2 linked regions of the Homo sapiens genome follow. The protein of the gene in region 1 purifies or fractionates together with the protein of each later gene. This does not show direct contact. Each region holds a gene or a part of one and is shown in the gene's direction. Other genes may lie near its edges. The genes, in order: LAT2 and PLCG2.

Evidence for each region.
Region 2: the proteins of LAT2 (region 1) and PLCG2 purify together in Homo sapiens (affinity purification with western blotting, with the first as the bait; one study listed by BioGRID). This does not show direct contact.

What each region holds. Positions count from the first base shown.
Region 1 is NC_000007.14:74,223,280-74,227,087, forward strand, and holds part of LAT2 (linker for activation of T-cells family member 2), read left to right. Parts: intron 1-444; coding exon 445-504; intron 505-738; coding exon 739-918; intron 919-1,359; coding exon 1,360-1,463; 3' UTR 1,464-1,481; intron 1,482-3,808. UniProt on the Homo sapiens protein: Involved in FCER1 (high affinity immunoglobulin epsilon receptor)-mediated signaling in mast cells.
Region 2 is NC_000016.10:81,911,637-81,915,444, forward strand, and holds part of PLCG2 (1-phosphatidylinositol 4,5-bisphosphate phosphodiesterase gamma-2), read left to right. Parts: intron 1-960; coding exon 961-1,080; intron 1,081-3,808. UniProt on the Homo sapiens protein: The production of the second messenger molecules diacylglycerol (DAG) and inositol 1,4,5-trisphosphate (IP3) is mediated by activated phosphatidylinositol-specific phospholipase C enzymes. It is a crucial enzyme in transmembrane signaling.

The sequences.
Region 1 (3,808 bases):
TAGGGGTTCAAGACCAGCCTGGGCAACACAGCGAGATCCTCTCTACAAACAATTTTAAAAGTTAGCTGGGCGTGGTGGTGCATGCCTGTAGTTCCAGCTACTCAGGAGGCTGCGGGGTAGGAAGATCGTTTGAGCCGGGAGTTGGAGGCTACAGTGAGCTGACTTTGCCAGTGCTCTCCAGCCTGGGTGACAGAGCAAGACCGTCTCAACAAGAAACAAAGAAGACAGAGGAGCTCAGGGCTCAGGGAAGAGCATGCAGGGGCACCAGGCCAGCACCCATTAGGAAGCTCATCCAGAAGAAGGCTTGAGGTCCCGGGGGACCCAGAGGGCTAGGGCTTGGCGGAAGAGGTCCCCTGCAAAGGGAAGGCAGGACAGAGCGGGAGGATGAGCCAGGCTTTGCAGGGTCTGCCCACACCCCCGTGCCCACTCCTCTCTCTCCTGCAGATGATGATGCCAATTCCTACGAGAATGTGCTCATTTGCAAGCAGAAAACCACAGAGACAGGTGAGGCTGCCCAGCCAGAGGCAGGCTGGGGCTGGGAGCAGCAGGCCTCCTTGGCCAGGTGCCCCTGCACTCCCCACTGCTCAAAGGCCGCCCCCACTTTGAAGCCTGAAGGCTCTCGGATCCCCAGGTACCTTTCGGTAGAGCCTTGCCCCTACTATCCTCGGAGGCAGCTCTATTGGCTCCTGGTGCCTCTGTGGGACTGAGCCAAGGGGGGCCTATTCTCCCTCTCTGCAGGTGCCCAGCAGGAGGGCATAGGTGGCCTCTGCAGAGGGGACCTCAGCCTGTCACTGGCCCTGAAGACTGGCCCCACTTCTGGTCTCTGTCCCTCTGCCTCCCCGGAAGAAGATGAGGAATCTGAGGATTATCAGAACTCAGCATCCATCCATCAGTGGCGCGAGTCCAGGAAGGTCATGGGTAGGTGGCCGGGAGAAGAGGCAGGGTGGTCCACTTAGGGCAGGCTTGAGGGACTGGCCTGGAAGGGCAGGCTGAAAGTGGGCTTCCCTCCAGCCAGTCCAGCTAACCCCGCAGTGATGCCTGGGTGCAGGAGCAGCTGCAGAGACCTTGAACCACACAGGACGGCCCTTGGCAGCCGCCCAGCCTCCAGGGTGGGGTCAGGTCCTCCCGGGCAGGCCGCCCCATCCAGCTGCATGCATGGAGTAACGCATTCACCTGCTCTCACAGCAGGACGATCTCCGGCAAATCCCAGAGACAGGACAGACACACACCGCCAGGACCTGTCGGGCGTGGCATTTCCCGCGGGCTGTTTTGTGGAGTCTGGGGGTCTGAGTCTGGGGGAGCAGTCATGGGTGTCTCCATGTGAACCACTCGATGACCTGTCTGCCCGCTGGTCCACAGGGCAACTCCAGAGAGAAGCATCCCCTGGCCCGGTGGGAAGCCCAGACGAGGAGGACGGGGAACCGGATTACGTGAATGGGGAGGTGGCAGCCACAGAAGCCTAGGGCAGACCAAGAAGAAAGGTACAGCCCCTGCTCTCCAGCTGCCGTGGGCCAAGGATTGGAGGTCTTGCCAAGCTGCAGGACCCCCAATCCAAGGGAACAGCCGAGAGTGTGGGTGGAGGGGCCATGGTGGGGGCTACAGGGTGCACCCATGGGTGCTCCAAGAGGGCAGCTTGGCGACTCTGTTCCTCTGTTCTGGCCAGGGGCGTCAGGCAGGGAATTCTGGTGACTTCAGGGGCAAAGAAGTGGGCACCGGGTGGGTCTCCCAACTCCACTGCATCCTCCTGGCTGCGACCTTGGACCAAGTGACAACCTCCCAGAACTTAGTTCCTCACTTGGTGCCCACCTCTCAGAGAAGACATCGCACACACGGCCGGGCACGGTGGCTCACGCCTGTAATCCCGGCACTTTGGGAGGCCGAGGCAGGCAGATCACCTGAGGTCACGAGTTCGAGACCAGCCTGGCCAACATGGTGAAACTTCATCTCTACTAAAAACACAAAAAATTAGCCAGGCATGGTGGTGGGTGCCTGTAGTCCCAGTTAGTTGGGAGGCTGAGGCAGGAGAATCATTTGAACCCTGAAGGCGGAGGTTGCGGTGAGTTAAGATCACATGCACTCAACCCTGGGTGACAGAGCGAGACTCCGTCTCAATAAATAAATAAAAAAACAGACATTGCACACAAAGCCTCAGCCCAGCAGGCACTCGGTCAATGCTGGAAACAGACAGGAGGCAGGGACGTTGGGAAATGTAACAGTGGCTGAGACGCGCTGAGGAGCCACCGCAGGCCAGTGAGATGGTGCGGCGCTAAGCGCTCACACGTGCACCATCTCTTAGCACCCAAAGCCACAGAGCAGTTAAGCCACCTGCCCAAGGCCACATCTTGAAGTAAGGGGAGGAGGAGATGGAATCCCCAGTGGTCAGACATCAGACATCAAAGCCTAGGCTGGGTCTACTGCTTGGGAAGCACGATGGACCCCCAGAGGGCCTTGAAGGCTGCCCAAAGTCCCCATCTGGGAGACCCAGGCCGTCATCTCAGCGAGCAGGCTGGAGGGTGGAAACCACAGTGAACCTGGGTGGTCAAGAGTCAGCCCCAGAGGCAGGTGCAGGAGTTTGAGCCAAATGTGCAGAGCCCCACGTCATTCATTCAACCAGTATCCACTGGGCCCCTGCTACGGGCAAGTCCTGCTCTAGGTGCTGGGAACACCAACATAAAGAACAGCAAACCCCTGACCCCTTAGAACTTGCATTCTGGTAGGAGAGAGAAAACAGATAGGGCTGGACACAGCGGTCATGCCTATAAATCCCAGCACTTCGGGAGGCTGAGGCGGGAGGATCCTTTGAGCCTCTGAGTTTGAGGCCAGCCTGGGCAACATAGCAAGACCTCTCTCTCTACAAAAACTTTTTTTTTTTTTTTTTGAGACAGAGTATCACTGTCACTCAGGCTGGAGTGCAGTGGCGCCATCTCGGCTCACTGCAACCTCCACCTCCTGGGTTCAAGCGATTCTCGTGCCTCAGCCTTCCAAGTAGCTGGGATTACAGGCACACGCCACCATGTCCAGCCTCTATAAAAACATTTAAAATTAGCCAGGCATGGTGGTGGATGCCCTAGAGTCCCACTGACTTGGGAGGCTGAGGTGGGAAGATCACTTGAGCCTGGGAGGTCAAGGTTGCAATGAGCCATGGTTGCTGCAGTGAGCTGTGGTCGTGCCACTGCACTCAAGCCTGGGCAACAGAGCAAGACCCCATCTCAAAAAAAAAATTTAAAAATTAGCTGGGCATAGTGGTGTGTACCTGTAGTCCCAGCTACTTGGGAGGCTGAGGCAGGAGGATCGCTTGAGCCCAGGAGTTCAAGGCTACAGTGAGCTATGATTGTACCACTGTACAGCCAGGATGACAGAGTGAGACCCTGTCAAAACAACAACAACAACAAGAAAACAGATAAGAAGACATGGCATGTTCACTGGTGGTAAGTCTGGCAGAGAGAAACAAAACAGGGAAGCGGGGCAGGAAGTAGTGTGGGGTTGTGGGCAAGACGCAGTGTTGCAATTTAAGGAAGGCGGCTAGGGAAGCCTTTCAGAGCTCCCTTCCTCACCCCATCTGGGGGAAGGACATCCAGGCAGAGGGGACAACAGAGGCCCCAGGGTGGAGTGAGCCCCACAGGTCTGAGCAAAGCCAGGGGCCAGGGAGGAGCAGGTGAGGGGAAACTAGTGGAGGTCGAGGCCGTTGGTGGGGAGGCTGACCAGGCAGGGCCAGCACTTGGGGTTTTACTGCATGAGATGGGAGGGAGGGAGGGAGATAGAAAGGTTGTTTTTTCTTTTTTTTTTTTTTTCGTTCCTGTCGCCCAGG
Region 2 (3,808 bases), on another chromosome or scaffold:
GTCTCGCTCTGTCTCCCAGGCTGGAGTGCAATGGCACGATCTCAGCTCACTGCAACCTCTGCCTCCCAGGTTCAAGAGATTCTTGTGCCTCAGCCTCCTGAGTAGCTGGTATTATAGGCGCACGCCACTGGGCCTGGCTAATTTTTGTATTTCCTTTTTTTTTTTTTTTTTTTTTTTTTGGGACAGAGTCACATTCTGTTGCCTAGGCTAGAGTGCAGTGGCATGATCTCGGCTCACTGCAACCTTTGCCTCCTGGGTTCAAGTGATTCTCCTGCCTCAGCCTCCTGAGTAGCTGGGACTACAGGCGCCTGCCACCATGCCTGGCTAATTTTTTGTATTTTTAGTAGAGACAGGGTTTCACCGTGTTAGCCAGGATGATCTCGATCTCCTGACCTCATGATCCACCCGCCTCAACCTCCCAAAGTGCTGGGATTACAGGCGTGAGCCACCACGCCTGGCCCAATTTTTGTATTTTTAGTAGAGACAGAGTTTCGCCATGTTGGTCAGGCTGGTCTTGAACTCCTGGCTTCTCGCGATCCACCTGCCTTGGCCTCCCAAAGTGCTGGGATTACAGGCGTGAGCCACTGTGCCCAGGCTATTTTATTTTTTATAGAGATGGGGGTCTCATTGTGTTGGCCAGGCTGGTCTCAAACTCCTGACCCCAAGTGATCCTCCTGCCTCAGCCTCCCAAAGTGCTGGGATTTCAGGTGTGAACCACTGTGCTCGGCCCAATGTATTATTTTGGGCTTGAAACAGACCCCTGGGGTCTTCCACTATTCTTTTCACAAATTCTCTTTGCTGAGGTGCCTTTGTCTGGGGAAGCCCACTGTGTGATTTCCATGGTCGTTTCCAGGGCCAGGTTCCAGGTGTCACTGGTGCCATTATCTTGTCCTCTGCGGGTGGCCCACTGACAGCCTGGAGACCGCTCACCTGGTCGTTTTCCCTGGCCCTGTGCCGCAGGTGGTACTATGACAGCCTGAGCCGCGGAGAGGCAGAGGACATGCTGATGAGGATTCCCCGGGACGGGGCCTTCCTGATCCGGAAGCGAGAGGGGAGCGACTCCTATGCCATCACCTTCAGGTGGGTGCGAGGGTGGGAGGCACATGCTCTACAGAGGGGCTTGGCAAGGACAGATGCGGAGAGACAAGGGGGAACTTCAGGTGGAGGCTCACCTGCAGTGCCCTGCCCCCCCAGCATCAGCGACAACAACAACCACCACAGCAAAAGCCGCTGCGAGAATGTGCGCTCCTGCGTGCCAGGCACAGTCTGCGTTCTCCAGGGCAGGATGTTCTGTAGTAACTCACTTTGGCTTCCAGTAACTCTGTGGGGTTGACATGACCATGATCCGTGTTTCTCAGAGGAGGAAACTGAGGCACAGCAAGATTAAGTAACTTGCTGAAGCATGCAGCCACTAAGTGGTGGGGCTGGGATTCGAGCCCAGACAGCCCAGGCAGCCCAGGCCTGTGATGATATAGATCTGGTTTCCTCCCAACTGCAGCTGCTGCCCAACCACCTCTAGGCCTGTGGTTCTCTAATGTTACCCCAAAACGCCAGATTCTCCCACTTCCACTAATGACAAGGAGCCGAGGAGTGACTCAGACTCCGTGTAGCCTACTGTCCCTCCATCTCCCCAGCCCCAGGGTTTCCCTGCATGTTCTTACGGTGGTAACAGTCTGCTATATGTTGAGTTCCTAACCGTGTTCTAGACACTGGACTGCCTTCAAGGCCTCATCTGATTGAATCCTTTGCTACAGCCTGTGAGAGGTAGGTCTAGTTATTGCAAGGGAGGAAACAGGACCAGAGAGGTTAAGTGACCTGCCTGGAGTCACACAGCCTCATAGTCAACTGAGTTTGAGGTTCAGATGCAGGCCTGTCCGTCTCCAAAGCCTAAGCTCTTCACTCCAGAGTCTCTAGCCAGAGGCCTGGGGGCCAAATCTCCAGCCAGAGGCCTGTGGGCGTCTTTTGTACACTGATGTGAAAAACTGAGAAATTTCACTGAAAAACTCAGATTGCTTCTTGTGAAAAATGGGAGGCAGTGGATGCTCTGGGCCTGTGTTTCCACATGGGCGCGGTGGTGCTGGCTGCATGGCAGCTACTGTGGGGTGTGTGGTTTGCCCCTGTCCACTCCTCTCCCCATTCCCTCTGCCCTGATCCCATCCCCTGGTGACCCTGCCAGGCTGCCCCCTGGGCGTTTGGATTTCCCTTCCTCCTTGCCTGCACCACTATGCCTGAGCCACCTCCCTGGGGACCGTGGTGACGGTCATTATCACTATAGTTTACTGAGGACCTACTGTGTACTGGCTCCAGCCAGAGAGCAGCCTCCCACCAGCATGGCTTTTCTGTACTCTCTGTTCCCAAGAGGGTGACCTGGGCTTCTCAGCATTGGTGCCTCTGCCCTTTGCTCTTTCCCCTAAGCCTCTTAGTGGTACCTCCTCAGCCTGGATGGGGAGGAGGTGTGTTCAGTCCGCTGCACACGGATTGAAAACCTGCTGTGTGCCAGGCCCCAGGTGGGGTGTTGGCACTCCCACTGTGCTGTCATCCTGTGCAAATGATGGCAACTAAACCCAACTGGCTGAAACTGAGGTGCCCAAGCGGTGAGACAGCTCTGACACAACCGGATCGGGGCCTCACCTGATGATGGTCAGGATGCCACCTGTATGTGCATGCTGGCGTTACTCTCCATCAGCTTCTGTCTCAGGTGGCTGTACCTTGGGCTGCCAGGACAGTGTCCGGCAGAAAGGATGGCCCCCTCCCTGAGCCAGGTGGCATGATTCTGACAGGCCATCTGGGGATGGGGTTGGGGTCACTTCAATGGGACCGCGTGAATGAAGAGGTTGGGTGGGTCCTCAGGTTGATTGCCTGACTTACATACACGCCCCATTCAGTTTGTGAGCTTGTCTTCCCCATGAGATTGGAGGTGTCTTGAGAATGGAAGTTTTTATTTTTTAGAAGTTAATAGATGTTTGGTGAGCACCTACTGTGTGCCGGGCCCTGTGCTGGGCTCCAGAGATGCAGGAGTGATAAAAACAGCCCAGTCCTTGCTCTCTCAGGCTAATGGTCTGGCAGGGATGAGAGACATCGCCTTACTCCAAGTGTTTCTTGCTTTTGACCTGTTCCTGCTTATGTAACATTGGCTGGGATGTAGTTGGTGGTTGGTGAATGCTGGCTCAGTGAATCAATCAGCAAGGATGGCCGCTCCCCACCTCACCCCATGGCCCACTGTCAGGGAAGCTCAGTCCACACAGTGTTTCTCAAAGAGTTGGGGTGTGAGGACTGATCCTGTTGTATTTGGATGTTGAACTTCCCTGGTCTCTACCCACTGCATGTCTGTCTGGGACCCTAAGTCATTGTAACAATCAAAAATAACATCCCTGCCCCAGGACACACACTTTTTCAAACCCTCTCTGGTCAGGGTATGGGGTGAAGCGTCACTGTCCTTCACTGAGAAGCACTGAGGAGGTTTGAGCACATAAGGAAATCAGTGTAGTATTTTGTGATGAGTGCTACAAAGGGATTGGTCAGGCAGGGTGGTGGAGGGTGAGTAGCTCTCCAGGGAAACGGATGGGGAATTTGGACCAGGCAGTAGGGGAACACAGGTCTGCAGCAACTTCTCCTTGCCCTCTACATATTTGTAAAGTGCCTCTCCTGTGCCAGGCACTGTTCTGGGCTCTGGGGATGTGTAATGAACTTCTGGATAGATTTCCCCAGTAGAGGAGAAACACCTGCTTTCAAATCCACAAAGGAAGTGTTGAGTTGTTGCCCGGCTGTGATTGGTGGAAGGCATCTCTTGGGCAGTGAAGCTGAGACC